Regions from separate parts of the Homo sapiens genome. Here all the other regions are reported to be linked to region 6. The links are microRNA targets in miRTarBase. Many come from high-throughput screens and were not tested one by one. Region 6 holds a microRNA gene; each other region holds the end of a gene's coding sequence.

Region 1 (5,091 bases), not on the chromosome of region 6:
GATGAGTTAACTTTTTTGTAGAAGGATGAAAGGGGTGCTTTACAAAAGAAGATGATTGCTATGAAGATATTCTACGTTGTGTATTTAGGTCTTAATTAAGTACTACTAAAGTACTGAGTAAAAGTCTTCATTCACTGATAAAATTTTACTGTTAATTTTTGTGAAATAGGGGACTATTCAGACATGCCTTTATAAAGCTTGTTAATCTAGTAATTAAATATCAGGTACTGTAGGTACCAACACCCTTTCCTCCCCACATAGCATTTCACGTATGAAAAGAGAATAATTGGATATAATATGCTAACAAGCTGTGTTTGCTCTCTGATTACATTTCTTGACTAGTATTCAGAATTGTAGTCATTTGCTACATTCTTCCTAGACCTCATGAAATAACTCTGTAAACTTTTTTTCTCATTTCTTTCTAGATTGATCCAAATCCTGATCAGTCAGCAGATGATAGACCATCCTGCCCCTCTCGTTGAAGGAACACTTGGTTGAATCAAGTTGATGTGGGTTCCGAACTGTATCTCTTCCGGCTGAGGACAGAGAAGTATCTTGGAGACACGTTTCAGAGGAAGTGGAATTACTTTTGCCCAGAAAAATGGCGAATACATGAAACAACCAGTGATCATGCTTTAGAAGCCTACAGCAACATTCTGAGACTGCTCCAACATGCTTGAAGATCTAAGCTTTTCTCTTTTAAAACTGGCACATACTCAGAGCAGTCTTCTTAGCCTATGGTCGTACGTGTCAAGACATCACGTTGTAAAGAGGGATGATTTCCTTCTTTTGATTTGAAAATTTGCACATGCTCAATGCTTACATTGTGCGGTTCGACGTCACTACAGCTTCTTTTTTTTTTTTTTTTTTTTTCTATTTTTGCCAGACTCTTGATACTCTTAAAACTTGTTTGTGGTCAGCACAACAAGGAACAAAACAAAGCTTTGAAAAAACTTTAACATGAAAAAACGCACTGACATTTTTTTTTATTTAATATAGCCTGGACTTTACCTGCGTATGCACATGCTCAGAATTGTCTACTAGGCTGACTATGTATCACCTCTTCAGCTTGGATCCAATTGTGGATTTATTTACAAACATCAAATGCCTTCAAGCCAATCCTTTTTGCTGTATGTTTTGCAGCCTACTGTAGTAGATACGCAACAGATAATGTGGGAAAAAAAGAGATAAGAGGAGGAAGCTAATAAGAGACTGTCAAGATTGTATACCTTCTTGGTTTCTTTTAAGAATTTGTTGCCTTTCTACTATTACAGCAAAGCAGCATTTTGTTACTGACTGCCTAAAATCACTTAATCTCAGGTGAACGCATCACTTGCCAAACTGTTGGAATGCTATTTGTGTTTTGTTGCACTGTTTTTTTCGTTTGTTTGTTTGTTTATTTGGTTGGCTTTTTGGAGAGGGAAATTTGGAAACGGGACATACACAAAAGTTACACACCCACATTCCCTTTTTATCATGACATACAAGAAGAAACTAGCAGAGCTAAGAATGGAGTGAAGAAAGGCAGTATGGCAGGCACCAGCAAAGAGTTGAGGGCTGTTGCTCTTAAAAATTATTTTTTTTATTATTATTTTGAAAGTATGGAAGTTTTCCATTCACTGGGGAAAGGAGGGAAAAGTGCATTTATTTTTATACAGAGTTACTTAATTACCTCCAAAACACATATGTTGGAAATCGCTTTTGCTGGTGCAAAGTATATTAATGAGCAGGAATACATACATTGAGGTTATGAATAGAGAGCTCAATTTGTACCTTTGCTGTCTTGCTCAAGCTTGGTATGGCATGAAAACTCGACTTTATTCCAAAAGTAACTTCAAAATTTAAAATACTAGAACGTTTGCTGCGATAAATCTTTTGGATTTTTGTGTTTTTCTAATGAGAATACTGTTTTTCATTACCTAAAGAACAATTTGCTAAACATGAGAAATCACTCACTTTGATTATGTATAGATTACATAGGAAGAACAATCACATCAGTAAGTTATAGTTTATATTAAAGGTAATTTTCTGTTGGCTCATAACAAATATACCAGCATTCATGATAGCATTTCAGCATTTTCCAAGGTACCAAGTGTACTTATTTTGTTGTTGTTGTTGTTGTTGTATTTTAGAAGGAATTCAGCTCTGATGTTTTTAAAGAAAACCAGCATCTCTGATGTTGCAACATACGTGTAAAATGGGTGTTACATCTATCCTGCCATTTAACCCCACAGTTAATAAAGTGGCTGAAAATAATAGTAGCTCTGGCTTGGTGCTTGACCTGGTTAAATACTGTCTTAAAGCTCATACAAAACAAATAGGCTTTTCCATAAGTGGCCTTTAAGAAAACATGGAAGACAATTCATGTTTGACAAATGCTGACAGGGTGAAGAAAGCCCAGTGTAAAAATGAATCGCGTTTTAAGTGATTCGGTTAAAGAGTTTGGGCTCCCGTAGCAAACTAATACTAGATAATAAGGAAATGGGGGTGAAATATTTTTTTATTGTTGAATCATTTTGTGAATGTCCCCCTCAAAAAAAGCTAATGGAATATTTGGCATAAAGGGCATTTGGTGGTTTTATTTTTGTTTGAGGGGGATTGTCAGAAAATCCCTTTTCTCTCTTACGTCTAACTGACTAGGGAACAATTGTTGATATGCATAGCATTGGAATACTTGTCATTATATACTCTTACAAATAACACATGAAGCAAGAATGACCAATATTCTGATAATTGGCACTGGATCACAAAATGTGATAAAACTTTAAATGTATAAAACTTTATCAAATAAAGTTTTATTTTCCCCTTTAAAATGTATTTCTTTAGAGGCATTACTTTTTTAAAAATATTGGTCAATTCCTGACATAAGATGTGAGGTTCACAGTTGTATTCCAGTATTCAAGATAGATTCCTGATTTTTCAATTAGGAAAAGTAAAATCCAAAATGTTAGCAAAACAAAGTGCAATATTAAATGTTTGCTTTATAGATTATATTCTATGGCTGTTTGTAATTTCTCTTTTTTTCCTTTTTTATTTGGTGCTGAATATGTCCTTGTAGGCTCTGTTTTAAGAAAACAATATGTGGGAAATGATTTAATTTTTCCTATTGCTCTTCCTTGTGGAAAATAAAGTGTTTTGTTTTTTTCTGTTTTGTATAATTGTTTGGAGATTTATTTGAATCTTGATCATATTAGTAACTCACCATACATGCAAACACATTAAATTAAACTATTAAACTCTATTTTAAGCCATTCTGGGTAAGAATTGTATCTAGGTCTGTACTAAAGAAAATTACTGACCAACTCCTAGGCTAAAGTAGTCCTCCTGTCTCAACCTCCGAAGTAGCTAGGACTACAGGTGCACACCACCACACCCACCTAATTTTCTAATTTTTTTGTAGTCGTGGTCTCACTATGTTACCCAAGCTGATCTCAAACTCGGGCCTCAAGCGATCCTCCCAACTTGGCTTCACAAAGCACTGGGATTACAGGCGTGAGACACCATGTCCAGACTCTAAATTTCAATCTTAAATATGAAGCAAACTTAACCAGGTAAAATAATTCACTTTCAGGCACCAATTCCTTCTCACTGTGTTGTGTTCAAATTACCAGTATTTCAAGAGTACATAAACATAACATAGTTTTTTTTTTTTTTAAGAGAGTGTCTCACTTTGTCACCCAGGCTGCAGTGTAGTGGCAGGATCTCGGCCCACTTCAGCCTTGACTTCCCAGGTTCAAGCAATCCTCCTGCCTCAGACCCCCAAGTAGCTGAGACTACAGGCATGCCCCACCATGCCCAGCTTATTTTTGTGTTTTTTGTGGAGATGAGATTTTGCCATGTTGCCCAGGCTGGTCTCAAACTCCTGGACTCAAGTGATCCACCCTACTTGGCCTCCAAAGTGCTAGGATTACAGGCACAAACCACCACGCCCGGCCTAAAAGTTACATTAATTTCTAATTTTTGAAGAATATTTCTAAATTTCTTTAAATTTTAAAAACAGTGAATATTCTTTGTCTTAAAAGAATCTTAATTTTATAGTGTCTGATAACCTTAGAAGTACTTTTGGAATCACATTTAGAATTTTTCTTCAGTGTTTATACATTAATGCATGAGTTATCAAGTTGTATATGGGCCTTACTATATGATTCTCCAATATTTCTTCCCAAACATATATTCACATGCAAGGTATGTTACAAAGAGGCATCTAGACATACATTTTGGGTTTTTTGTTTTGTTTTTTGAGACAGGGTCTTGCTCTTTTGCCCAGTCTGGAGTACAGTGATAAGATCACAGCTCACTACAGCCTTGACCTCCCAGGCTCAAGAGATCCTCCCACTTCAGCCTCCCCAGTAGCTGGTACTACAAGCATGTGCCACTATGCCTGCTAATTTTTTTAAAATGTTTGTAGAGCTGGTGTCTCTCTATGTTGCCCAGGCTGGTCTCAAATTCCTGGTCTCAAGCAATCCTGCTGGCCTCCCAAAGTGTTGGGATTACAGGCAAGAGCCACAGAGCCTGACATAGACATACAAATATATACATTTTGTATACATTTATAGCTAATTAATTTTAGGAAGTACTGGCATCCTTTTCACTCAACCAGAAGCCAGTGATAACATAGTAACGTCTTAATACATTAAGGAATAACAAGCCAGGCGCATAATTCCAGCACCTCTGGAGGTCGAGGTGGGCAAATCTCCTGAGGTCAGGAGTTCGAGATCAGCCTGGCCAACATGGGAAAATCCCGTCTCTACTAAAAATACAAAAATTAGCTGGTCGTGGTGGCATGTGCCTGTAATCCCAGCTACTCAGAAGGCTGAGGCACAAGAATCACTTGAACCCGGGAGGCAGAGGCTGCAGTGCGCCAAGATCATGCCACTGTACTCCAGCCTGGGTGACAGAGTAAGACTCTGTCTCAAAAAAAAAAAAAAAAAAATTAAGGAATAGCAATGACAGTGTGGAAGAGGGGAGTTGTAGAATGAGAAGGGTAGACCTAGGTTCTGGGTTCAGTAAGTTTAGATGGAGCATTGAACAAAATGCAAGTTGATTTCCTTATCTACAAAGTGGAAAAGTAGCTACCCAAGGTCATTTTCA
Region 2 (5,084 bases), not on the chromosome of region 6:
CCTTGAAGGCCTTTGCTGCCCCAGGGCTGGATGGGGCAGAACCAGATTGTTGGGGCAGGGAAAAGAGGAAAAAAATGGCTGCTGGGGTGGAGGAACCGGCATGTCCAGCCCCTGCTGCTTTTCTCAGGGGTCACAGAGGAGGTGGTTGGGTGCAGGACAGGCCAGGGCCTGGGCGTTGCTGGCATTGACCATCCCTGTGTGATTGACAGCTGTAGCTGGAACCACTATAACATGCAGTACGCACTAGCAGTTTCCAAGCAGCGGGGCACAAAACGCTCCCTAGACCCGCTGGGAAGTGAGGAGGAGGCAGAAGCATCTGAAGATGACAGCCTGCATCTGCTTGGAGGAGGAGGCAGAGACTCAGAAGAAGAGATGCTGGCCTAGAGCCAGCCGGTTGCAGCGTTGGATTGTGCCGGCTAAGACCTGCCAGGGAGATGGGACCCTTGTGCCACCTGGGCCAGCAAAGAGGAGGGGTCCAGAGAACAGCTGAAATACTGTCACTAGTGGTAGTGACTTGCTTTTCCTGTGCACACATGTAGCCCATCAGGACAGCGAGCCGACGGGTCACGCCAGGGGCCGGCACGCACTGGCACCTGGCCCCAGGAGCGGGGCCGTGTGAACGGTGATGAATGTTGAAAATGCGTCTCAGAGAGGTATTCACATGAACTTTGTATGAGACTTATTTATATCTTTAACATAAAGGTTTGATAAAGAACTTAGGGATTAAAAAAAAGATGGAGTTTTCTAACGTGAGGATGAAGTCTACACTTCAGATTAAAAAGGGTTATGTTGTATCCTGCTGTCTTGTGGGGGCTCAAGACCTGCCTGCCTTACCACCAGGGCCTCCGTCCTGGGGAAGCAGGCTGACAGAGCAGGGTGCTCCTGCTGTCTAGCGGGGGCTCTGCCTTGTGACCTGTGCATATCCTTGGGGTCAGGGGCACAGAGCCTCTCCCTGACCTCTTGGGGATGCTTTGGAGTCTGGGGCTGGGATTGGCCTGTCTTGGTGAGCTCACTCAGACCTGCACCAGCTCTGCGTGGGCCACACGGAGGAGGAGACAGCTCCTCCCCTCTGCAGTGCCCTTGGGAATAGTCATCATGAGAGAGGCTTGGGTCTCCATCATGGTAGGGCATCCTGGTCCCCACAGCTCAGTAACAGCAGCCTCCAGGGTCAGGACCTGAGGCTGACACTGAGGTGGGCACTTCACCGACTGCCAGTGCTGTCTGCCAGGCCCAGCCTGTCCCTCGCCAGCGGTGTGGCCCCCAAGACCCTGGGTAGTACCTGGCTCCCTTGCTTATCTGGGAAGTGGAGCTGATATCTGCCTGCCGGCCTCCCGGGGGTGGCGTGAGGCCAGATGTGCTAGAGAGTGGAGATGAATACGACAGGCAGTGCCTTGTGGCCCACAGCACTGTACCTGCAGGCCTGCAGACCAGAGGTCTTTGTAGAAGGGAGGAGCTCAGGCCCTGATGACACCAGGTGTTCTGTGGCTGCACAATCTCCGTGACCCAGACGAGAGAGAATCCTTAGCTATCGCCTACCCAAAGCACAAGTTCCAGTGTTCCCCTCCCTTGCCTCGCCCTTTTCCGTGAAACAATTTCCAGCGTTCCCCCTCCTCGCCTCACCCTTTTCTGTGTCACATGTGCATGGCGATGGACACCTGAGTAGTCGCCCCTGGGACAACTGGAGCTGCGGCTCTGCAGTGGGGTCTGGGAGCTCCCGGCCAGGGGCAGCTCCCGCACACTTGGTAGAGACAGGGTCCTGGCCCCCACACCGACTGAGTGAGAGTCTGCATTCGGCATTTCCTTTCTGAGTGGCGCTTGGTGTTTTTTTGTGCCATCCCACAACCCCATCGCTCCCACCAGCTGATGCTCCCTGGCTGGCCGCTCCCCAGGAGCTGAGAAGCCTGAAGAGGGCCAGGCACGGAGGAGCAGGAACGAGGACAGTCAAATGTGCCAAGCTTGTCTTTGGTTGTAACTGGTAATGTCCCATGTCTGTTATTCTAGTTCCCCACTATCTTGCAAGGATTGGCAGTAAAGTCCTAGTGATGGACAACGCGGCAGTGGGGAAAGTGACAGCCGTGGCTAGATCATCAGATGTGTCTGTAGAATCCGGTGTGTCCCTGTGAACATCCGCCAGCAGTAACCATTCACATTATTTCAAAAACCTGCATTATTAGGTTGAAAATGGGTAAATCGGGGAAAAAGCCAGCACTTATCCAGCTATTCCTCTGTGAACTAACCCATGCATAACAAACAGATTTTTTTAATGGAAGAATTCCAGCTAGGACCCGAGCAGCTGGGATCTTCACACTGACCGTCCATGCTGTGAACGTAAAAAACAAAAACAAAAAAACAAACCCAAACAGCGCCCGGGAATGGTGGCTCACGCCTGTAATCCCAGCACTTTGGGAGTCCGAGGCGGGCAGATCACCTGAGCTCGGGAGTTCAAGACCAGCCAGACCAACATGGAGAAACCCCGTCTCTACTAAAAATACAAAATTAGCCTGGCGTGGTGGCGCATGCCTGTAGTCCCAGCTACTTGGGAGGCTGAGGCAGAAGAGTCGCTTGAACCTGGGAGGCGGAGGTTGCGTTGAGCCGACTTCGCGCCATTGCACTCCAGCCCGGGCAACAAGAGGGAAACTCCGTCTCAAAAAAAAAAAAAAAAAAACCCAAACAGAATCGGCGGCTCACTTGCCCCCAGACTAACCCAGATCAAGCCCCTGGGTGGAACTGCAGTTTCCAGGATACAACATCCCGGGGTCAGTAAAACCCGGAGGGGTCGCTCCGTGGGAGCCGGAGCCGCGAGGAGACAGTCATGGAAGCGGAGGGGTAGTCCTGACCCCGCGTGGGTCCTGACGCCGAGATTAAGACGAGTGGCCATTTAGGAGGATGTGGACCCTGGACGCTCGTGGTGAGTTAAGGATGAGACGGAGGTAAGGTAAGAAGCGCCGGACTGAGCCGCCCCGAGGCAGCCTTGCTCTGCGGATGGCGGAAAGGGTGCGCCGCCTGTGGAGGCGTCCGATGGGGGCGGGGCTGGGGACCCCGGGAGTCACCAGCATCCCTCAGCCTCGAGCACGAGCCCTCAGCCACCACCGGAAGGAAGACAGGGTTCCCGGAACTCTATTCGGAGGCTCTGCGCAGGCGCGGCCCCCGCCCACCGGCGAACTCACTGGATAGGGCTGAGACGGGGGCGGGTCTTGGCTCCGCCCAGAAGGCTGCGCAGGCGCAGTCCCGACGAGCAACGCGTTTGTAGAGGGGTGGGTGCGCACGCTCTGTCCCTGCGTGACCTTCCGACCCCGCTGTCCTCACCGCAATGGCGGCTGTGAGGGTCCTGGTGGCCTCGAGGCTCGCTGCGGCATCTGCATTCACGTCCCTGTCCCCCGGCGGTCGGACGCCTTCCCAGCGCGCAGCCCTTCACCTCTCCGTGCCGCGCCCCGCGGCCAGGGTCGCGCTGGTGAGTGGACGGAGGGGGTGAGGTCAGCTCCCGCCTCCAGAGATCAGCCTTCGCTGTTCTCTGCCCAAGGTCGGCCCCTCTTCCTAGGTCCGCTCCCGCCGCCCCACGTCGGCTCCTTCACCCCAAGTCAGCTCCTGCGGCCCAGGTCGGCCCCATTTTCCCGGGTCAGCGCCCGCGGCCCAGGTCGGCCCCTTTCCCCCCAGTCAACTCCCGCCGCCCAGGTCGGCCCCTTTCCCCCGGGTCAGCTCCCGCTCCTCTCGCAGGTGCTGTCTGGATGCGGAGTCTACGATGGGACCGAGATCCACGAGGCCTCGGCGTAAGTCCTCAGGGGCAGCTGGTCCTCCACCCCGGGGGCCTCGAGAAGGCCTCTCCACCAGTGAAGTTTACTCTTTTTTGAACAGCTTAGAGAAAGCATGTATTTTATTTTATTTTTACTTTTTGTCTTTTGAGACAGCGCCCAGTCTGGAGTGCAATGGCGCGATCTTGGCTCACTGCGGCCTCCGCCTCCTGGGTTCAAGCGATTCTCCTGCCTCAGCCTTCCGAGTAGCTGGGACTACAAGCATGCACCACCACACCCAACTAATTTGTGTATTTTTGGTAGATACGGAGTTTCACCATGTTGGCCAGGCTGGTCTCAAACTCCTGACCTCAAGTGATCCTCCCGCTTTGGCCTCCCAAAGTGCTGGGATTACAGGCATGAGCCACTGCACCCGGCCGAGAGAGCTTGTATTTTAAATACCCTATTCTTGGCTAAAAAAAAGCAAAAACGACTTGCAAAACCCAGGGAGACGCTAAGAAAGAACAGTTTTTAAGTGTCGCTTATGCTGTCACCTAGAGCCTAGAAATGACTTAGCATTTCACTTGAGTGTTTTTCAGGACACACACATTTTGAAAACACTGAGATCACACTCACCCGTGTTTTGCAAATGTTTCTGACGCATGGGAAGTAATTCCCATTCATTCAGTTCTCAACATCATTTTAACAGTTGCGTGGTATTTCTGGGTCCTAGACAGGTTACTGTTTACGTAACTGGTCAGCTGTTGCTGAGTGCTTGGTGGCCTGATTTCCTGTGCTACTGGAAATGACTGCAGGCCGAACCAGTAGGGCAGGAGGCCACCACGCGTGCCAGGTACCTGTAGTTCCCATGTGGTTCAGGGTGAACTGGAGAGGGGAGAGCTGGGTGGTGGCGAAAGGGGTGTCAGGCCATGGAGAGTGGCCTGAGGCTGGTGGCTTTGTGGGTGGCCCACCTTGGCTGGTTGGAGTTGGCACTAGGCAGAGTGAGCTGGGGGAAAGGGCCAGGATGTGTTTCATGATTTGGCCTTGGTGGGATAGAAAATAGCCCCAGAATAGCTTGAGCCCTCCCAGGCAGAACGGCAGGGTCTTGTGTCTGGGGTGTCTGGGTGGATTTCTTATGGGTAGCGGAACCCAAGTGCCAGGGCCAGGTGCTGACCTCTCCCTCTGGCAAGTCACTGCACTTCATGCCTCGGTTTCCTCCTCCACGTAAGGGGCAGTGAGGGCTTAGTGTGTGGGTGGGCTTAGCCACCTATCTCCTGTTGGCACTGGGAGTTGCGGATGCCAGCGTGAGCCCCCATAATGTCAGCTGTTGTCCCCAGGAGGAGCTTCTGTTGCCCT
Region 3 (5,000 bases), not on the chromosome of region 6:
TATGATGGTAGCCGAAAGTTTGATATAATCTTAAGTGTCTAACCTCACAGAGGCTGTTACAGGAAACAGGCAAAGAATGTCCTCCTTTTTGTGTCACTTGCTTCTTATACAAAAGCAATGCACAAAATGTTTTGAGTAATCAGTAGCACATTATGGCATTAAATCTTCATTTTAATAATATCTACTGCATAATAGCAATTTATCATTTCCATTCATGGAATCCTGCTTATATATAACACTTAATTTCTGACCATACATTCTGTTTAAAATGTTGCATGACTTAGGGAACAAATGTAACTTGAGAGACTATGGAATGATTTGCTCTAAAACATGGACAGTAAGCATTTTAGTGTAGGAGGAGGTATTTTTTGAGTTTATGAATGCTGTTTTATAATCTCTACTCATAGTTTTAAAGCAGTGATTCAAAAGAGTATATATCATTTAATGAATGTTTTTGGTTTTCTAGAATTCTTTGCTGAACTGGATAAAGTAATGGGCCCTCTCATCTTTAATGCAAGCATCATGACAGATCTAGTTCGTTATACCCGGCAGGGACTGCACTGGCTTCGCCAGGATGCCAAGTTGATATCTTGAACTGAACACATTCTCGTTGCCTCTGATTTTCTCCACAACACTGTGTCACATCACGAAGGAAAACTGCCATAACATACCACCTAGTCGACACTAAGAATGAGGAATAGTTTTCTCCTCGTTGGTTCATGTGTTGTTGTTTTTGATAATCCAAAGCGATCATGTCAGTTGGCCCTTTAATATTTCCAATGTGAAAGATTATTTAAATGCTTTTAAATCTGCAGCACATTGATAAGATGGTTTCCGTGAGCTATGATAAGATTGAAATTCCAGTTGCAATTCATAACTAATGAATTGAAATTTTATTTATTTTAATTTTTTTAAGTTCCCAGATTGGGGCTAGTTTAAGACTTAGTTATTTCTGCCTATAAATTTACTCTGTTGAATATTTAGCATAAATTTAATGTAGACATTTTTATTTATATACCTTGGGAGCTTTATTACCTAATATCTTTTTGTGGTAGCTGTTCTAAGAGTAAGAATTGGTTCGTCTAAAATAAGGACATATTCTTTCTACACCTGCTACCTGACCTGATATTTGAAATCTTAACTCCAATTTTATTATTGTGGAATTTACAGTTAGTATTAAGGATATTCTTCTACACATGAAAAAATCACTTAAATATGAGAAAATGGCATTCTACATGTATGTACTATGAAATGTGTCTGATTTGGTATGCATTATTTCAAAAACTGTGAATGTGTGTTAATAACACTACAGCAATCACACAGTGACTATAGCTTGCATTTAATGCATTACAAAAGAGGGAGGACAAACTTTCTAGAAGAAGCATTTCATGTTGAAGGGTTTCATAAAAGGACAATCCTGAACGTTACGGATTTTATTAAAACCATATGTTATTTTTTGTTGCTAATCATTTGACACTTAATCGAAACAGAATAAGTTACTGTGGAAAAAAGGATGATCCAACTCCTGAGGATTGCCGCCTGTGTGTCTTTAATTGATTATCTTTGATAGTTAGAGTTATTTTTCAGATTTTTCCCCCTCATACTGGATTGTGATGCTCTGATATGAGCATGCAATGACTGATACAGAAATAGGCTGGAGCTTCGGTGTGTGCTTTTGCTATACAGCTTACAGTTCTAATGCCTGATGTAGAGATGATGAATTTCTCCTTTTTAAACCTATCTTCTGTTTACTCCTTTTGCATTATGAAGGCCCTCTTCAATGATGTATGTTTCTGATGGAATCAGAAAATTTCACACTAGAAAAGTGTACCTAACTTGATTCAGTGTGAGCTCTTGGGACAGGGAGTGGAGCCAGGGGTAGAGCTTAAAGAAGCTGGCTCTGTAAGAGTTGTATATCAAAGTACCTTTTGCTACAAGGTGCATATAGAAGTCTAAGATAAGAAATGTACCCTCTATACTTTATTTTTCATGCCCCTATCATGTTTGGTGTGCCTTAAATCTTACCTTTAAATGAAGACTCTATGGATTGTTTACAAATGAAGTTTTACACTAGGACCAGATCGTCCATACATGATTGGTCTTCTACAATAATAATGTTCAATTCTTTCATTTTAAATCTTTCTTTAGGGTCATATAAAGATTAGTTCTTTCAGAAAAGCTATTGCTTTGGTACATGACTTAGTCTAACCAGTTGGGTAATGCTGCTTTGAAAAATAGTTTGTCCCTCTCCCCATTCCAAAAATGAATCCATTCAGTCAGAAAAAAAGATTATCCTACTATTTGTAGATGATTGCTAAGGCTTGAAATAGGAAAGGGGAAAGAAGGGATAGAAAAGTTTCAAGTCCAGTAGTGCAGTGAATCCTTTGTGTTTGAGACTTTTTTACACTTATTTCTGAAGTTAGTGAACTTTCATTGTCCCTGTGGCCTCATATTTATAGAGCTTCTTAACTGTTTTGTACCTCAGATTGTTTTTAGATGTCATTGAAGATTGAGATGTACAAATTATGTTGAATTTAACCTGTTTCTCTTGGAGAAATTGCCTCTGATATCTTTCTAACTTAATCTTAGTGTGTTCTAGGAACAGTTTTCCATAAGAGGACAACTTCTCAATGATCATGATAGTTATTTAGTAAGAAATAATGGTTGTTAATCAAATACATGTTATGTCTTGTCCTTCTCTGATTTTTCTGACTTGGATTCCTTAATTTGCAGTGATGTCTTAGAAATGGAAAAAGTATCCTCTGGGCTTTCAGACTTTCAGCAACAACAGCCAGTGGGATACCTCTGAGTTCTTGTGTTCTAGTCTCTTGTATGTCCTGAAAGGCAGCAGGAGCATTTTTGGGGTCACACTGATATTTTGTTAAAGCAGAGTTTCCTGCATGGTTTATGGTGCTGCTCTAATATTTTCTCTTTAAAACTGTGTCAATTTTTGGAGAATGAATTTTTCAACCTTTTCATTGTGGAGGATTTTTCCCACAAGGTAGTAATGGGCAATGGATCAAAATCCTATCATAAATGATTGAATTTTCAATGTCATAGTGTGTGGAAATACTACTCCCTTTCCTCCATGTCTATCTTCTTAGATGTTCTGTCTTTGTCATCATCTGCTCCAGCACATACTTTGGACTCCTTTACAGGTGACCTTCCCCCCTCCCTCCTCAATAGGTGTCCTCAGTGTTTTCTAAGCATTTAAAACTGAATTTGACAAGTGGCTAAAAACTTAGTCTGAGACTTGTACTTAGTATATGGTTAATTATAGAAACAACAACTATTTTAAACAGTTACTCTGTTGACTGCTCTTTATGACTACACTTGTATGCCAGGAGGCAGCAGCCTATACACCATTAGACTCTTTACAAGCAACCAACGAACCAATTGCAGTGGTTGCAGTTGTCACAGTAGTCTTGCCTGGGCCAGACTGGGCTGGGCTGTGGGAAGCATTCCCCTTCAGGGGAGTTTCCACAGCTCAGCCCAGGCTCCAGTCTGGCTAGAGAGCATCCAGCCCATTCCTTGCCTCAGTGCCACCTTTTTCTGGGCAAGTAGCCAAGAAGTGACTTTATATGCAGTGAGTACTTCAGATAAACTTACAGCTACAGCTGCCGAAGAGTGGAGAAGGTTGACCACCATTTATTTAATTCTCTAGTGTAAAAACAATTGAGAGCAGTGTGCGTGAGCCCACAGACACCTGTGTTTCTGGGAGCTCTGGCAGTGGCGGATTCATAGGCACTTGGGCTGCACTTTGAATGACACACTTGGCTTTATTAGATTCACTAGTTTTTAAAAAATTGTTGTTCGTTTCTTTTCATTAAAGGTTTAATCAGACAGATCAGACAGCATAATTTTGTATTTAATGACAGAAACGTTGGTACATTTCTTCATGAATGAGCTTGCATTCTGAAGCAAGAGCCTACAAAAGGCACTTGTTATAAATGAAAGTTCTGGCTCTAGAGGCCAGTACTCTGGAGTTTCAGAGCAGCCAGTGATTGTTCCAGTCAGTGATGCCTAGTTATATAGAGGAGGAGTACACTGTGCACTCTTCTAGGTGTAAGGGTATGCAACTTTGGATCTTAAAATTCTGTACACATACACACTTTATATATATGTATGTATGTATGAAAACATGAAATTAGTTTGTCAAATATGTGTGTGTTTAGTATTTTAGCTTAGTGCAACTATTTCCACATTATTTATTAAATTGATCTAAGACACTTTCTTGTTGACACCTTGAATATTAATGTTCAAGGGTGCAATGTGTATTCCTTTAGATTGTTAAAGCTTAATTACTATGATTTGTAGTAAATTAACTTTTAAAATGTATTTGAGCCCTTCTGTAGTGTCGTAGGGCTCTTACAGGGTGGGAAAGATTTTAATTTTCCAGTTGCTAATTGAACAGTATGGCCTCATTATATATTTTGATTTATAGGAGTTTGTGTCTGGGTCCCAGGAACATCTACTGGGGATGACTGTTAGGCAGCTTGTGATGATGTTTTTTAAAAAACCTAAGTAACTTGGGGAGACAGAGCATTTCAAACCCATATAGACACCTATCATACCTGTATATCCCCTAATACATGGAACATAAATTTCATTTCAGCTTTATGCATTAATGTATTGAAGAGGCAGGCTTTTTTTCCAGTAATAATACTGTACATCTAAGGTTGCTATTCAGTAAAACTAATAGAAGAGATAATTATTGAATACCTTGGAATATGTAGTGAGAAGAGGCCAAATTTTTCATGTTTGTGAGCATGTCTTTCAGATACTCGCTAATGGAGAAATTCACTTTAGACCTCTAGACCCCAAAACCAAGTTAGCAAGTGACAAAAAGTAAATTATTAATAGTCTGTAAAGTGGATGCTGGTCTTACAAAGCTCCTATTCACATGAACCCTATGGTTAATTAGAAAGAACTTGCTGTCTCCAGAAAAGGGAATGGAAATAATAACTATGTATCTTCTTTTCATGTAATTTGGTCACAGA
Region 4 (5,091 bases), not on the chromosome of region 6:
TTGAACATAATATGGCTGGGGTGGTGTGTGTTTGTGTGTGTGTGTGAGTGATTTTAATATTTACCTTCCTTGAGGTTCTCTGAGCTTCATAGATTTGTGTTTTCTGGGTTCATAAATTTTGGAAACATATTGGCCATTATGTCTTCAAATATTTCTTCTGTCCCATTTATTCTGTATCTTCTGGGATTCCAATTATGTGTATGTGTTGGACCAATGGATATTTTCTCAGAGCTCTTGGATTCTCTGTTCCTTCTTGTCCTACCCTACCCCACTTATGTTTCAGTTTGAGTAACTTTTATTGTCCTAACGTCAAGTTCATTTACTTTTTCCTTGACTATGTCAAGTATATTGATGAGCCTGTTGAAGACAATTGTTCATGTGCTTATTGAGTTTTTTCATTTCTAGTATTTCCATTTTATTCTTTTTGTTATTGTTTGAGACTGAGTCTCGCTCTGTCTCCCAGGCTGGAGTGCAGTGGCGTGATCTCAGCTCACTGCAAGCTCCGCCTCCCGGGTTCCCGCTATTCTCCTGCCTCAGCCTCCCGAGTAGCTGGGACTACAGGTGCCCACCACCACGCCTGGCTACTTTTTTTTGTATTTTTTAGTAGAGACGGGGTTTCACCGTGTTAGCCAGGATGGTCTCGATCTCCTGAGCTCGTGATCCGCCCACCTTGGCCTCCCAAGGTGCTGGGATTACAGGCGTGAGCCACCACGCCCAGCCCCATTTTATTTTTATAGTTTTTGTGTCTCTGCTCAAATTATCCATCTAATCTTGCCTGTTGTGCATTTTCCATTATAACTCTTAAGATACTACTCATAGTTCCTTTAAATTCCATGTCAGTCCAACAGCTATGTATTTCTGAGTCTAGTTCTGATGAATTTTGTTTCTTGGTGGGGTAAGGTGTTCATTTTTGCATTTTTGTATGCCTTGCATTTTTTTTTTCCTGAAAGCCAAGTATCTTCTGTAGAACAATAGATATGAAGGTAAATGGATTTAATTCCTGGAAAGGGCATGTCTTTCTATGTAGCCTTTAGTGTGTGGGAGGTGGATGGGTAAGATTTTTATAATTATAGCTAGGAATTGAGGAAGGTTTATGGTTTGTTGTTGCTGTGGTTATAAGTTCACCATAGGTTTCAGATATGAATAGTGATTCCTTATCTTTAGGGTCCGAACTGGTTTTCCCAAGGGTCTATCTCAATGTCAGGGTGATCTTCAGGTTTAGGTCCCATTGGATTATGCTTCAGATAGCCCATCTATACTAATATATTTTCATTCATTCAAATACTTATTGAGTGCTAACCATTGAATTATGTGTCATTGTACTAAACGCTGGAACTTGTAACTCCCCAAATACTTTATTATTGTTTGCCATTATTTTATCCATCTGTAATTTTCTCTTTAGCTTTCCAACTTTTGTGTGCCTAGCAAATTCACATTCTTCCTTTAATATTATCTGCAAAAACAATCCCTGTCCCCATACCTCCATCACCATGAAGTTTATCATCCTCTTCTCCGTACTACCTATGCACCTTATACAGAATTCCATATTTTATTACCTGAATTCCCTGGTAAACTGTAAGTGTCTGCTGGCAAGAACAGTGTCTTATTAGTTTACATATCCACAGGATTTAGCAGTGATTGGTCCAGGGTGTTTACATGCACAACAAATGTGCAGCGAAAATATTTGCTAATGAAAGCTGGAAATCTATAGGCATCTATTAAAAGCAAAATACTGTAATAATGGGCTCTCTTACAACAGTCTAGGAGTAAAGCAAAACATTTTTCTTGCCAGTTAAGTTTTCAGGACTTTAAAAAAACACAAAGTTGATTTCCTTCTTAGTTTGGATATATTTTTTAAATTCATGTAATGCAAAATAATTTAAATAATAAATGATTCGGCCTATTAGGATATAATTGAGTTCCAAGCAGTTGGGAGGACACATGAACCCAAAGTTACTTTACCTTTATTGCACTTTCACAAATGCCTTTAAGAGCTTAAGAATAGGAGAGAATAGACAAAACTAGATGAAATGAGAATTTTTGACTGGGCCAGAAATAAAGCAGTGAGGATATGCAATTCTCACAAGTAATTCCAAGTTAAGTTTAACTGTATCATGTATTGCCATTCTAATGCTCTCTTGAAATCCCCAAGAGGAGCAAGAAATGCAATAGGCAATGAGATAAGCCTGAGGAAATTAGGTGACTGTGGGCAGGGCATTCTCTTGCTTCTCCCTAGTCTTCAGGTGTGTCACAATTCATTTGGGACTGACATGTATTTGTATGGCAGATTGGCAGAGGAATTAACAAGCTAGAGGGTGTGTGTAGAAAAGAGGGGGAAAAAAGACCTGCCTCTCCATGAGTTACCTCTGTGCTGTTTGCTCACCCATTTGCTCCAAGGGGTGGATTTTTATGCTTGCTTTACAAATACGAAAGAACAAGTTTAAATGGGAAGTTAGTTGTACTATCCTGTATGCATGCTCACCCCTCACAATTTGGATTGTTGTTTTATCAATTGTGGTCAAAGTTAGGATGACCTAACCCATATACATTCCACACATTCCACAAAGTCATCTTAAACTTAAGGTATTCTCAAAAATAACTTTTACAGAAGGAAAACTTAAACAGAAGAGCCCAACTGTGTATGATCCAATTACAAAAAAGTTATCTGATTTTATTTCTTATATATTTGGCACAAACAGCAGAGACTGAAAGCTACTACACATGTTGAACTGCTGACAGGAAAAGAACCCAGTAGATAAATCTAGGCTTTCCACTCCATATATTAGCTGGGGCTGCCATAACAAAACATCATAGACTGGGTGGCTTAAACAACAATTTACTTCTCACAGTTCTGAAGTCTGGAAGTCTGAGAACAGGTCGCCAGCATGGTTAGGTTCTCGTAGGGTTCTCTTCCTGTTCTGTAGACAGCTGGCTTCTTCCTGCATCCTCACATGGTGCAGAGAGCAAGCAGGCTTTCTGATGTCTTTTTGAGACGTAGTCTCGCTCTGTCGCCCAGGGTGGAGTACAGTGGCGTGATCCTGGCTCACTGCAACCTCCGCCTCCTGGGTTCAAGCGATTCTTCTCCTTCAGCCTCCCGAGTAGCTGGGACTACAGGCACATGCCACTGTGCCTGGCTAATTTTTTGTATTTTTTTTCAGTGGAGACGGGGTTTCACCGTGTTAGCCAGGATTGTCTCAATCTCCTGACCTCATGATCCACTCGCCTTGGCCTCCCAAAGTGCTGGGATTACAGGCATGAGCCACCGGGCTCAGCCTGATGTCTCTTCTTATAAAGGCACTAATCCCATCACGAGGGCTCCACCCTCATGACCTCATCTAATCCTAATTGCCTCCCAAATGCCTCATTTCCAAGTAACATCACATTGATGGTGAGGATTTTAACATAATTAGTTTTGGGAGGGACATAAACATTCAGTCCATAACAACTCATATTACACCACTTATTGCATACCAGTATTGTTACATGAAAATACCAATGTTTACTCATATAAATATAGATGATTTATTTCCAAATAAAACAATACTGATTTCTCCTGGCTCTGAAATCCTCATTCTTCACTATATCTTGGTTCTTTTACTGATAGCTTGTCTCAGCCAAGTTAGACGTTCACACCATGAAGATCATATATCCTCATATCCGTGGAGATGGTAAAGTAAGGTTTCTACTGTTACACACCATTATGAGTGACAACTTTATCTACCTAAAGACTCACTTTTCTTTATTCTCACCCACAAGTTTGTCAGCTGAAAGTGGCACCCTGTTTTGCCGAGAAGTTCCTTATATTTGATAATTCTAGATCTGAGAAACAGACTCAAATTCTTTTTTCTGTGACCTTAAATCAGGCTCAGAGCCCTATAATGGACTTCACAATTCTATTTTGTTGTATGTGACCAATAAATTATCTTTAAAACTATGCTGGAAGTAAAATATCGGTAATTTTTTTTTTTTTTGACACAGAGTCTTGCTCTGTTGCCCAGACTGGAGTGCAGTGGTGCAATCTCTGCTCGGTGCAACCCCCACCTCCTGGGTTCAAGCGATTCTCCTGCCTCAGCCTCTCCAGTAGCTGAGATTACAGGTGCGCACCACCACGCCCAGCTAATTTTGTATTTTTTAGTAGAGACAGGGTTTCACCGTGGTCTCAAACTCTTGACCTCGTGATCCGCCTGTCTCAGCCTCCCAAAGTGCTGGGGTTACAGGTGTAAGCCACTGCGCCCAGCCAGTAATTCTTATCAAATGAAAAATGATCTTCATTCACAATGACTGACCAAACTTCTGAGTTTCCTTCAGTTAATTTCAAATCCTGAGGTCAAAATCACCAATGACTTTTGCTCTTTGGCTTTCAAAGTGGGACATATCATCAAATGGTCCCATATACACAAAATTTACATTATAGACAAATACATATTTGCCATATGTTTGATAGCCTCATTCGTTGATTTTATAGATTTAAAACAACCTTAGGCTTTTTCTTCAGAATGTGTATTCTGATGTCGAATCAGGGATGAACTCCGACTATATGCCTTCCCACATTTACTACATTCATAGGGTTTCTCTGAAGAATGACTTCTCTGATGTCGAATAAGGTCTGAGCCACTGCTAAATGCCTTCCCACATTCATTACATTCATAGGGTTTCTCTCCAGTATGACTTCTTTCATGTAGAATAAGAGATGTGCGCTGACTAAAGGCCTTACCACATGTTTTGCATGTATATGGCTTCTCTCCAGTGTGAATTCTTTCATGTTGGGCGAGGTGTGCACTCTGGCTGAAGGCCTTCCCACACTGATCACATTCATAGGGTCTATCTTCAGTATGAATTCTCTTATGTCGTGTGAGAGATATTCGGTGGCTGAAGGCTTTTCCACATTCCTCACACTGGTAGGGTTTTTCTCCAGTATGAATTCTTTGATGTTCAATAAGAAATGATTGGCGGCCGAAAACTTTACTACATTTATTGCATTTGAAAGGTTTCTCTTCAGAATGAATATTCTGATGTATTTTAAGGTTTGCAGTTCCAGAAAACATCTTCCCACATTCCTTACACTCAAATAGTTTCTTTTTCTTTGTATGA
Region 5 (5,091 bases), not on the chromosome of region 6:
TCCTGGATATTTAATGAAGTGAGTAAACCCACACCTGGATGTTTACAGCAACTTACTCATAATCGCCAAAACTTGGAAGCTAGCAAGTTGCCCTTCGGTCAGTGACTGGATAAGCAAACTGATCCATCCAGTCAGTGAACTATTATAAAGCTGTAAAAAGACATGAAAAATTCCTAAATGCACGTTATTGTACAAGTGAAAGAAGGCAATCTGAAAAGACTCATCCTGTTAGACATTCCAGAAAAAGCTTTTGCATTTTTCTAAGGAGACAGTAGAAAGCCCAGTGGATGCAAGGGGTTGGGAGCACAATGGGATGAATGGGAAGAGGACAGAGGAATTTTAGGGAAAGAAAACTACTCTCCATGATGCTCTAATGGTGGATACATGTCATTATCCCTTTGTTAAAATCCATAGAATGTACAAAACCAGCAATGATCCCTCATGTGAACTATGGACATTGGGTGATAATGATGTGTCCCTGTGGCTCATTGGTTGTGATGAATGCTCTGTGCTGGTGTGGGTGCTGATCCTGTGGGGGTGCTGTGTATTGAAGGGGGAAGAAGGTAGATGAGAACTCTGCAGTTTCTGCTTAGTTTTTCTGTGAATCTAAAACTGCTGTAAAGGAAAAAATAGGCTGGGTGTGGTGGCTCACGTCTATAGTCATAGCATTTTGGGAAGCCGAGGCAGGTGGATCACCTGAGATCAGGGGTTCCAGACCAGCCTAGCTAAAATGACAAAACCCTGTCTCTACTAAAAACTGATAATAATAATAATACAAAAATTAATCAGGTGTGGTGTTGCATGCCTGTAATCCCAGCTACTCTGGAGGCTGAGACAGGAGCATTGCTGGAATCCTGGAGGCAGAAGTTGCAGTGAACAGAGATCGTACCTCTGCACTCCAGCACGGATGACAGAAGGAGACTCCATCTCCAAAATAAATAAATAAATAAACTCAAGGCTGGGTGCGGTGGCTCATGCCTATAGGAACTCACTCCCAGCAATTTAGGAGGCCGAGGCAGGTGGATCGCTTGAGCCCAGAATTTCAAGACCAGTCTGGGCAACATGGTGAAGCCTGGTCTTCACTAAGAATACAAAAATAAGTCAGGCATGATGGTGCATGCCTGTTGTTCCAGCTACTAGGGGGACTGAGGCAGGGAGATCACCTGAGCCTAGGAGGTCAAGGCTGCAGTAAGCCGTGATCATGCCACTGCACTCCAATCTGGACAACAGAGTGAGACTTTGTCTCCAAATAAAATAAAATAAAATAAAATAAAATAAACTCAATATTTTTTAAAACTGTAATGTTTCCTTTCAAAGCTAAAATTGTATTATTCTAAATATATTTTAAAGAAGAAATGATTATTGTTCAGTGTCTTTAAAATTAGTTTTTAAAATCTCATTTGTTTTGACATTTCAAACCAAGTTAAGTATTCTTTTTCTCACCCTCCTTGAGACGGAGTCTTCCTCTTTCACCCAGGCTGGAGTGCAGTGGTGCATTCTTGGCTCACTGCAACCTTTGCCTCGCAGGTTCAAGCGATTCTCTTGCCTCAGCCTCCTGACTATCTGGGATTACAGGCACCTGTCACCACGCCAGGCTAATTTTTTGTATTTTTCGTAGAGACGGGGTTTCATCATGTTGGCCAGGCTGGTCTGGAACTCCTGACCTCGTGATCTGCCCACCTCGGCCTCCCAAAGTGCCAGGAATACAGGCATGAACCACCACACCTGGCCATTAACCATTCTTGAAATATCACGTTGCATTCTTTAAAAGTTCTAATCTTTCATATACATAAATTACAACACAAATATTTATACTCTAATAGTATTCACATTATAGTAAATTTTTTTTCATGCTCTGTCGCCCAGGCTGGAGTGAAGTGGTGCCATCTCGTCTCATTGCAACCCTCACCTCCCGGGTTCAAGTGATTGTCCTGCCTCAGCCTCCTGAATACCTGGGATTACAGGCGAATGCCACCACTCCCAGCAAATTTTGTGTATTTTTAGTAGAGATGGGGTTTCACCATGTTGGCCAGGCTGGTCTCAAAATCCTGAGGCTGCCTTGGCCTCCCAAAGTGCTGGGATTAGAGGTGTGAGACACCATGCCCGGCCATAATAATAAATCTTATTTTATCTTTTTTTTTGAGACGGAGTTTTGCTAGGGTTGCCCAGGCTGGAGTGCAATGGCTCAGTCTGAGCTCACCGCAACCTCCACCTCCAGGTTCAAATGATTCTCCCGCCTCAGCCTATCGAGTAGCTGCAATTACAGACGTGCGCCACCACGCCTGGCTAATTTTTTGTATTTTAAGTAGAGAAGGGTTTTCTTCATGTTGCTCAGGCTGGTCTCAAACTCCCAACCTCAGGTGATCCACCTGCCTCAGCCTCCCAAAGTGCTGGAATTACAGGTATGACTCACTGCACCTGGCTCATAATAGTACATTTTTAAAAACACCATAAAATATAATCCTTGCAACACTCAATTATACCATCTGGTCGGATCTATCAGCAGATGGCACCCGAGACATACGGATTGGAAATTTTGATCTTATTATGAATGAATCCAGTCCAGAAATGCCCACCCTGCCCCCTGCTGGCTCCTGGGGCTCTGCTCTTTGGGGCAATCATGATGAAATTGTGGCAGAGAGTAGAAGTTGAGCCCCATTGCATGCCCTGAGTTCTTGTTGCCTCTCTATTATCAGGAAAAGGAGGTGAGATTGAAAGATGAAAAGTGCTGGGACTTCTGCTGAGAAGAGAAAAAAGAACAAGATGTATTGATCTTACTGTATGCCAGACCCCATGCCAAGCCCTAAACATGAACCATCTCATTGGATCCTACCAAGGTCCCATAAGCTGTTGGACATCATCATCCTCATTTTACAGGAAGCTGAGGCTCTAGGCTAACATCCCTGACAGCAACACCAGCCCCTGAGTACACAGCAGGATCCTTCACTTGGGTGCCCATTATGCAGAATTCCTCAGCACAGGGAAGGTCACTCATCACCCACAGGCCCTTGATCGTTATCCACCCTTTGATGCTGTCAGATTCCAGAACACGCTGCACTAGTCTCTTCCTTCATAGGGAGAGAGGGGAGGTGTTATGAGAAAATCTCTCATCAATCTGACCTAGCTCCCCCAAAAGATGTAACTTTTAAAATGTCAGATGGAAATATTTAAAAAGTGTTATATGCCTGTATAGTTTTAGTATTTTACTTAAAGGGAATGTGGCTGTCTTTACTGGCTACAACCAGTTTAATTCAAGAAGGGCTGCTGGTCATCAGGAGAACAAGCAAGGGTTGATGCTGCCCAGAGTCTCCAGCTAATACACAATATGGACATCCCCTTCCAGGGCAGCGGGAAGAGAGTGGCTCCTTGTGCAGTGAAGCTGACATCCACCAACTAAGGCTTCTGGAAGCATGTGGAGACTCACAGGGAGTGGGCAGGGTCTCAGCATCTGGATAGCGGTGAAAGACCCTGAGAAGAAGGTGCTTTCCGTGTGGATTGGCTCACTGTTCTTGCCCAGCAATGTTCCAGGCCTTTGGTGTCCACCTAGTGTGTATTAACCCACTGAACAGCCACAGAAACTAACAAGGAGTTAACAGACATCTAAAGAAGTGAAGAACTGGAGGAGGCCAAGCCAAGCGTGGTGGTCCACGCCTATACTCCCTGCATTTTGGGAGGCCAAGGCAGGAGAATCACAAGCTCAGGAGTTCCAGATCAGCCTGGGGAAGACAGCGAGGCCTTGTCTCTACTAAAAAGAAGTATCCAGGTGTGGTGGCTCACACAGCTGTAGTCATAGCTACTCAGGAGGCTGAGGTGGGTGGATCGCTTGAACCCCGGAAATTGAGGTTGCAGTGAGGTATGATTGTGCCACTGCACTGTAGCCTGAGTGACAGGAGACCTTTAAAAAACAAACAAACAAAAAAGCCTGACACAGTGGCTCACACCTGTAACCCCAGCACTTTGGTAGGCCTACTTGCATGAATCACCCAAAGTCAGGAGTTTGAGACCAGCCTGACCAACATAGTGAGGAAACCCTGTCTCTACTAAACATACACAAATTAGCTGGGCATGGTGGTGCATGCTTGTAATCCCAGCTACTTGGGAGGCTGAGGCAGAAGAATCATTTAAACCCCAGGTGGAGGTTGCAGTCAGCTCAGATGGCACCATTGCACTCTAAACTCCAGCCTGGGCAACAAGAGTGAAACTCTGTCTCCAATAAAAGAATGGGAGGAAACTGATTACAATAACCAAATTTCATTTAAATGCCTTGATTTTCTTGGGCTGCATCTTATTGATTGGACAACTCAGTCAGTGCCTTTTGTTTTTTCCATCAATAACTGAAGATTCCTGAGGCTTAAACTGGAAAACAGGTTACTTAATAATAGAGGGCACCAGACAGATTCTGCTCAGTTTTCCTTTATTTCTGATTGTTTCTTTACAACCATCCATGCAAGAGTAACTCCCTCATGTATTCTCAAGCCTGAATTCCACTCTAGACATTCAGATTCCCATTTTCGACTCTACAGGACACAGGTCCCCAAAGTCCCATCGAATCCATGGCAACATTTCCCCCAAGTCCGGCCCCTGCTTGATCAGCTTTCCTTTCCCACTTTCAGAGCCTATGTGTGAAATGATGGGTTCTGTGCTCCCTTTAGGATGTACCTAAGACCTAGGTTTTAGTTTCCAAGTGTCCAGAAGAAAGCGTTTGACATACCCATCCAAATAGGCAGGCATTCAACAGCAGTATTGATCTGCCTCCAGGTCATAAAATGACCTGTTGCCACAGTCAGGGCAGTAGTCAGTACAGAACAAGATCCTCTTGGGGTGCCTTAAGTCCCTCACTCTGTTCATCAGCTCAGCCCTAATTTGAGCAAATCTGCTCCAGCAGAGAGTACCATCAGCACCATAACTCTCCCGGGGGGCAGGATACAGCTCCACGCATAAGTTTTTGAGTATGATTGTGTGGCTCAGCAGGTTCTCCAGGGTGGCCATGCAGATGGGATTTCCACAGAAGCTGAAGGTGTTGAGCTCAAAGCAGCGGCTCAGGGCAGGCAAGATGGCGTTGACTTGGGAGTCTATGATGCCACAGTCATC
Region 6 (5,091 bases):
AGGATCAGTTGAACCCAGGAGGCAGAGGTTGCAGTGAGCCGAGATCACACCACTGCACTCCAGCCTGGGTGACAGAGCGAGACTCCATCTCAAAAAAAAAAAAAAAAAAAAGCTAGAGAACATTATGTATAATTTGTGATGTTATTTTCTCTAAGTATAAATACATGCATTTTAAGTATCTTGAAATATCTGTGAGGCTATACACCGAACAGGATGATGGAAGGGGGTCAGCCAGTAGGCTTTTATTTTGAAAAACAAAAGCCAAAGTATGCCTTTTTGAGATAACCTTTCCTTTCATTCCATTCCTGTTGACTCAGTTCTACCCCTGCTAACTTGTGCAAGAAAGTTCTCTTTTTTCTCTTTTCTTCCCCTCACTTCATCTGCTTAGTGACTCTTCCCAGTCTTGCTTTCATTGTCTCCTTGCTGAGTTTAGCATTTAAAACGGCTCTCTGTTGGACTAATTGACTTTGCGCCTTGCTCACAAGTCCTTCTGTAATATGTCCTTTTACCTTTTCAGTGCCATTCCTTATGACTCCCTAATACAGTCTCTGGACTATTCTCTTCCTGTCCCCTATACATGCCATGTAATTTTTCTGTTACAGGTATTTATTTTGAGGCCTATCTGCAGAAAACACCCTTTAACTTACATAATTGTCTCCCTTCTTGTAGTACTTAGTTTTATCCAAGAGAAAACTTGGATTTGGTTTAATGAAATATATAATTGTTTCATTGGCATATTTAAAGACTATGTAATAGTCTGTAAATAAATAGCATGCTTGTTCAAGTGTACATTTTTCAAAGTACGTGTCAGACATTCTTTTCTAATGTTTTCAGAAATTTTGGAAATAATTGGTTAAAAATAAATGCCTAGAATGCACAGCATCTTGAAAAACAAGACTGCGTGGAGTACCTTCTGTGTGTCTACCAGTCTCACAAAAAACTCTTCTATAAAGACCCCCTCGGGCCGGGCGCGGTGACTCATGCCTATAATCCCAGCAATTTGGGCGGCCGAGGCGGGCGGATCACTTGAGGTCAGGAGTCTGAGACCAGCCTGGCCAACATGGCTCTACTAAAAACACATTTCTTCTAAAAACACAAAAATTGACTGGGTGTGGTGGCGGGCCAGCTACTTGAGAGGCTGAGGCACGAGAATCACTTGAACCCAGGAAGCAGAGGTTGCAGTGAGCCGAGATCGCATCACTGTACTCCAGCCTGGGAAACAGAGCAAGACTGTCTCAAAAAAACAAACAAACGAAAGAAAAACACACACAAAAAAACCTTTTGGTAATTTCTTTGGGTAGGTTTTAGTTTTTTAGATAGCGTAAATCCAAATCCATTCATTTCCATAAAACATCAGACACAATTTGATGTATATTTGGCCACCAAACATGGTGCAAAATTTTATGTAGTCTGGAGATACTTAAAAGCAGCACAAATGTGACTCTACCTGTCTGCACTCAGCAGAATAGTGGCGATTTCAGGTGGTGACACAAAAGGTTGGGCAATAGTTGAAAAGTGGATGACATGAAATGTGGTGGTGGGATGGGGGCAGGAAGCCGATGTTAAGCTAGTGAACTTTATTTACTTTGCTTCCAGCTTCCAGTGACCCAAAATCACCTCGTCTAGAGTAGGGCTCAGGAATTTGCCATTTTAAAAGCAACTCTAGATGATTCTGGTGTACAAGAAGTTTGGGAAACACTGGCTTGAACCTGATATTTTCTCTGAACTCTCATAGTTTTCTTTAGATTTTTCTTTTGGCTTTGATTTCTCTTTCTGGTTCTTGTCTCATTACCCCATCACTTCTCCTTCCTAATTTGACAGGAAAGCCTTGTCAAATTAAGGCTTGCTTAATTGTCAAGGCTAATTTGACAAGACTCTTCTCTTACTGTCTTATTTGACTTTTGCTATGAGAATCTGCTTCTTCTTAGACTTAAGTGTATGATAAATTATTCATGACCAAGGGCCTTGTTTTTCTTTCTTTAACATGGGATTTAGTGGCTTATCTCATGTTACAGGATTTAGAGAGTTGATACTACATTTAAATTTTTTGTTAAGAAAAATGTACATCTTCTATCTCACTTAGGTGTTTTTCCTGTTTGAGGGACATGGTTTGCAAAGGTTAGAATGAATGAGCCTCATAGTTTTTGTCAAAAGAGAATATTGATGTACATCTGAATAATAACCAGAACATTCATATTAAGTCATACTATATAGCCATTTAAAAGAATGACGAGTACATAAAAGACTGTTGTGGAAGTCTATGATATATAGCTGAATAACAAAATAGATTATAGAACAATAGGTAAAAATGAGCTTATTTTTGTCTAAGCCACTCTCCCCCCAAAACATGCAAAATTACAGCTATTTATCTGTGTATGTATGGATAAAGGTCTTCAAGGATATAAAATAAATTCTAGTTATGATATTTATTATCTTAATAAGTTTATTATAATTATACATGTTTTCCTCCGAGGAAATGGATTGCAGATGATGATTGAAGGGATTTTCAATTTTTACTTTGTATATTTTTGTATTTGAATTTCTAAATAATAAGCATATGATTCTGTTTAGAAATTCTGAATGTACTGATTTTTAAAATGTGATGTGATATCCAGATATGTATTTAATTCTTCCTATAAAATATCATTTCCTTAAATCTAGACTATTGAAAAAGGAGAAAAGTACTAGGAATTTAGAGAACTTACTCCATGTTAGAACCAAGGAGAACAAGAAAAGCTTTAGCTAGTGTTTTGGAAATAGTAGCAGCTCCCACTCACAGCAGTAGCTGCTGCACTCAGGCGACTCTCTGCACATGCTTTTGCTTCCTTTGGGTTGTTTGGTCCGCAGTTTGCATTCATTGATCAGTGAGTTGATTCAGACTCAAACCCACCGACAGCAATGAATGTTGAGTGCAGCCATCAGTGTTTTCAGTTGGTGGGGTTGCCTTTGCCCTCCCTGGCTGACTCCTGGCTCTTCTTTTCCATCTCAGTTCTTTGAAGTCTGTGTGTCTGGCTTCTCCCTTAGTAACCAGCCATCTGCATGATTGAGGGCCCACACAGGTGTCCATAACATTGACATTGGAGCTGGGAGGTTATTGCAGATGAGGAAGCTGTGGTTCAGAGAAGGAAGGAGTGCTTGGAGAACCTCACAGGTAGCACTGCGCCACACAGGCAGTGCTTGCATATTAGTACCTGTAAACCACAGCTGAGGGACCTGCTTTTCCTCTTTGTTTTGAACTGAGAAGTATGAGTGCTTTTTTGAGGTAAATTAGCAGATTATGTTGGAGTTTAATAATAACAGCTTACATATATTGAGCATTTGCTGTGGGCTAGTAATGGTACAAAGCACCTTATATATTATCTCATTGAGTCTCAAAACTCCATGATAGGTACTCTTAGCCTCTGTTTTATATGTGAGAAAACTGAGACACTTGCTTAGGGGGTCAAATAACTAGTTAAGGGCTTGAGCCAAGATTCATCCCAGATCTGACTGACTCCAGGGCTAAGTTTTTGCTTGAATTTAGCAAACATTTAAATAAGCATATGTGGGGATATGTGGGCACTAGTAAGGCAATAGCTCATGCTCTAACTGGGATATCAAAAATTAACCATATTAACTATAATTCAAAGTGAAATGTGATAAGAACTGTCACAATTGGATAATTTTGTGCTATTTTTGCTTATTAAATCCTCCCCTTGCCCCTAATTAAAAATTTTGAGAGGATGTGGGAGAAATGGGAGTAATTATTTAACTGGATTTTATTCCAAAACAAAATACGTATTTTTAATAAATTTTTACTTGCTACGTCCTGTTTCTCACCAGAATGGTGCATATCTAGGAGACATGTAGGTACATTAGATATCATCATGGACTGCTCCTTACCTTGTTGAAATGAAACACTTTTTTTGTAAAAACAAACAAATAATAATAAAACACACAACAGAAAGCAAGGAACAGTGAGCAGTAGGAATAAAATTCACTGGACCACATTTGGGGGATTGCAGGACCATTTCTGGTGAACTCATGTGACATGTGAAGGTACAGCTTGCTCTTTTGCTTCAGGAAATGTAGTGTCGTCTGTAAGGACCCCAAGGTACAGTCAACGGTCAGTGGTTTTTTCAAATCCCAAACTCACCGACAGCGTTGAATGTTCCTTGGAGTCCTCTGAAGGCTGGCCTGATAGCCCTTCTTCATTCTCCCATCCACATCCCAAGAACCAGTGAGCAGTGAGACCACCGCTGATGGATGCTCTTACATTCCTCTCTGGGTTTCAAGTCGAGAGTATTTAAATTATAAAATCAATTTGTGTGCAGCAGAGAACTAATGAACTGTGGGATAGACTGTGCAGTAATTTGTACAAGCAGACTCAAATGAATGTCTGAGAAAATGTCTTTGAATGGTATTATTTTGTGATTCTAAAAATGTAAAATACCTGATTTTGCAGTAGTATTTTAATTGTTAACAAGGGTAAGAGATTAACATATATTGGGGATCTGCTATATACTAGGATTTGTATATTTTATCTCATTAAATTCTCAACAACCCACATTTTCCTGATGAAAAAACTTGAAGTGATTTGCCTAAAGTTACATTGCCAGGAGCCAAGGTTATAAGCCAGAATTTGAATACTGGACTTCATGTTTCCAGTGCTCACTCATCATACTGCTTCTGTTGTCTACTACAGAACTTACTGTTGATATCTAGGAGTAGACCCATCACTGCAGAGCCAAAGTCAAACATGTAAATTTCTTCTACTTGTTTGCCTATAATAATAGCAGGTAGGTCTATAGGTGAGGTCATAGGGGAAGATGAAAAACCTCGACCTCCATGATTGATGATCTCCTTTGCTGAGATCCTGCATTACTAAGTTACCACAGAGGTGTTAGTGATAGTCCACAAGCTATTTTCCATATTGAAAAAGCAAAAAATAAACCAAAAACCCACCACCTAATGTAAAGCTTGCATTTCTTCTTAGTTGAGAACACAGAGTGTAACTAAAATGTCAGATGTCATTTGTTCTGGCTGAAACGATACCAGTACATTATAGGACATAGTGGTTATTTTTGATTCTGTTGAATGTCTGTGATGAAA

Evidence for each region. The annotated mature microRNA hsa-miR-181b-5p reads AACAUUCAUUGCUGUCGGUGGGU and lies in region 6 at 2,885-2,907, opposite strand. An mRNA with a match to its seed (bases 2 to 7 or 8) in the 3' UTR can be bound and repressed. Matches are read on the target gene's strand: a 7mer-m8 pairs with bases 2 to 8, a 7mer-A1 pairs with bases 2 to 7 and ends in A, and an 8mer does both.
Region 1: miRTarBase lists ARRDC3 as a target of hsa-miR-181b-5p. Seed matches in the 3' UTR shown: 7mer-m8 at 2,520-2,526.
Region 2: the mRNA of PWP2 is a reported target of hsa-miR-181b-5p. Seed matches in the 3' UTR shown: 7mer-m8 at 627-633.
Region 3: miRTarBase lists AFF4 as a target of hsa-miR-181b-5p. Seed matches in the 3' UTR shown: 7mer-m8 at 1,288-1,294.
Region 4: the mRNA of ZNF667 is a reported target of hsa-miR-181b-5p. Seed matches in the 3' UTR shown: 7mer-m8 at 3,428-3,434.
Region 5: the mRNA of PRAMEF4 is a reported target of hsa-miR-181b-5p. Seed matches in the 3' UTR shown: 7mer-m8 at 4,494-4,500.

What each region holds. Positions count from the first base shown.
Region 1 is chr5:91,366,791-91,371,881 of GRCh38, reverse strand. ARRDC3 (arrestin domain containing 3) reads left to right here. Exons shown (of 8, transcript NM_020801.4): 8 at 426-3,251. The coding sequence ends at 482. Among named protein-coding and RNA genes, the nearest start is that of ARRDC3-AS1, 11 kb to the left of the region's middle.
Region 2 is chr21:44,130,388-44,135,471 of GRCh38, forward strand. PWP2 (PWP2 small subunit processome component) reads left to right here. Exons shown (of 21, transcript NM_005049.3): 21 at 210-794. The coding sequence ends at 384. It overlaps GATD3 (glutamine amidotransferase class 1 domain containing 3), which reads left to right and starts at 3,296. Exons shown (of 7, transcript NM_004649.8): 1 at 3,296-3,451; 2 at 3,715-3,767. The coding sequence starts at 3,311. RefSeq lists enhancers at 2,796-3,323, 3,324-3,851, 3,852-4,379.
Region 3 is chr5:132,876,653-132,881,652 of GRCh38, reverse strand. AFF4 (ALF transcription elongation factor 4) reads left to right here. Exons shown (of 21, transcript NM_014423.4): 21 at 467-5,000. The coding sequence ends at 594. Among named protein-coding and RNA genes, the nearest start is that of LEAP2, 5.5 kb to the right of the region's middle.
Region 4 is chr19:56,436,684-56,441,774 of GRCh38, forward strand. ZNF667 (zinc finger protein 667) reads right to left here. Exons shown (of 7, transcript NM_001321356.2): 7 at 2,646-5,091. The coding sequence ends at 4,479. Among named protein-coding and RNA genes, the nearest start is that of ZNF583, 35 kb to the left of the region's middle.
Region 5 is chr1:12,874,813-12,879,903 of GRCh38, forward strand. It overlaps PRAMEF4 (PRAME family member 4), which reads right to left. Exons shown (of 4, transcript NM_001009611.4): 4 at 4,400-5,091. The coding sequence ends at 4,732. Among named protein-coding and RNA genes, the nearest start is that of PRAMEF4, 8.8 kb to the right of the region's middle.
Region 6 is chr9:124,691,541-124,696,631 of GRCh38, reverse strand. MIR181B2 (microRNA 181b-2) reads right to left here and starts at 2,922; the gene lies at 2,834-2,922. All of the region lies in intron 2 of NR6A1 (nuclear receptor subfamily 6 group A member 1), which reads left to right. The region is part of intron 1 of MIR181A2HG (MIR181A2 host gene); the gene reads right to left. MIR181A2 (microRNA 181a-2) reads right to left here and starts at 4,190; the gene lies at 4,081-4,190. RefSeq lists an enhancer at 1,065-1,610.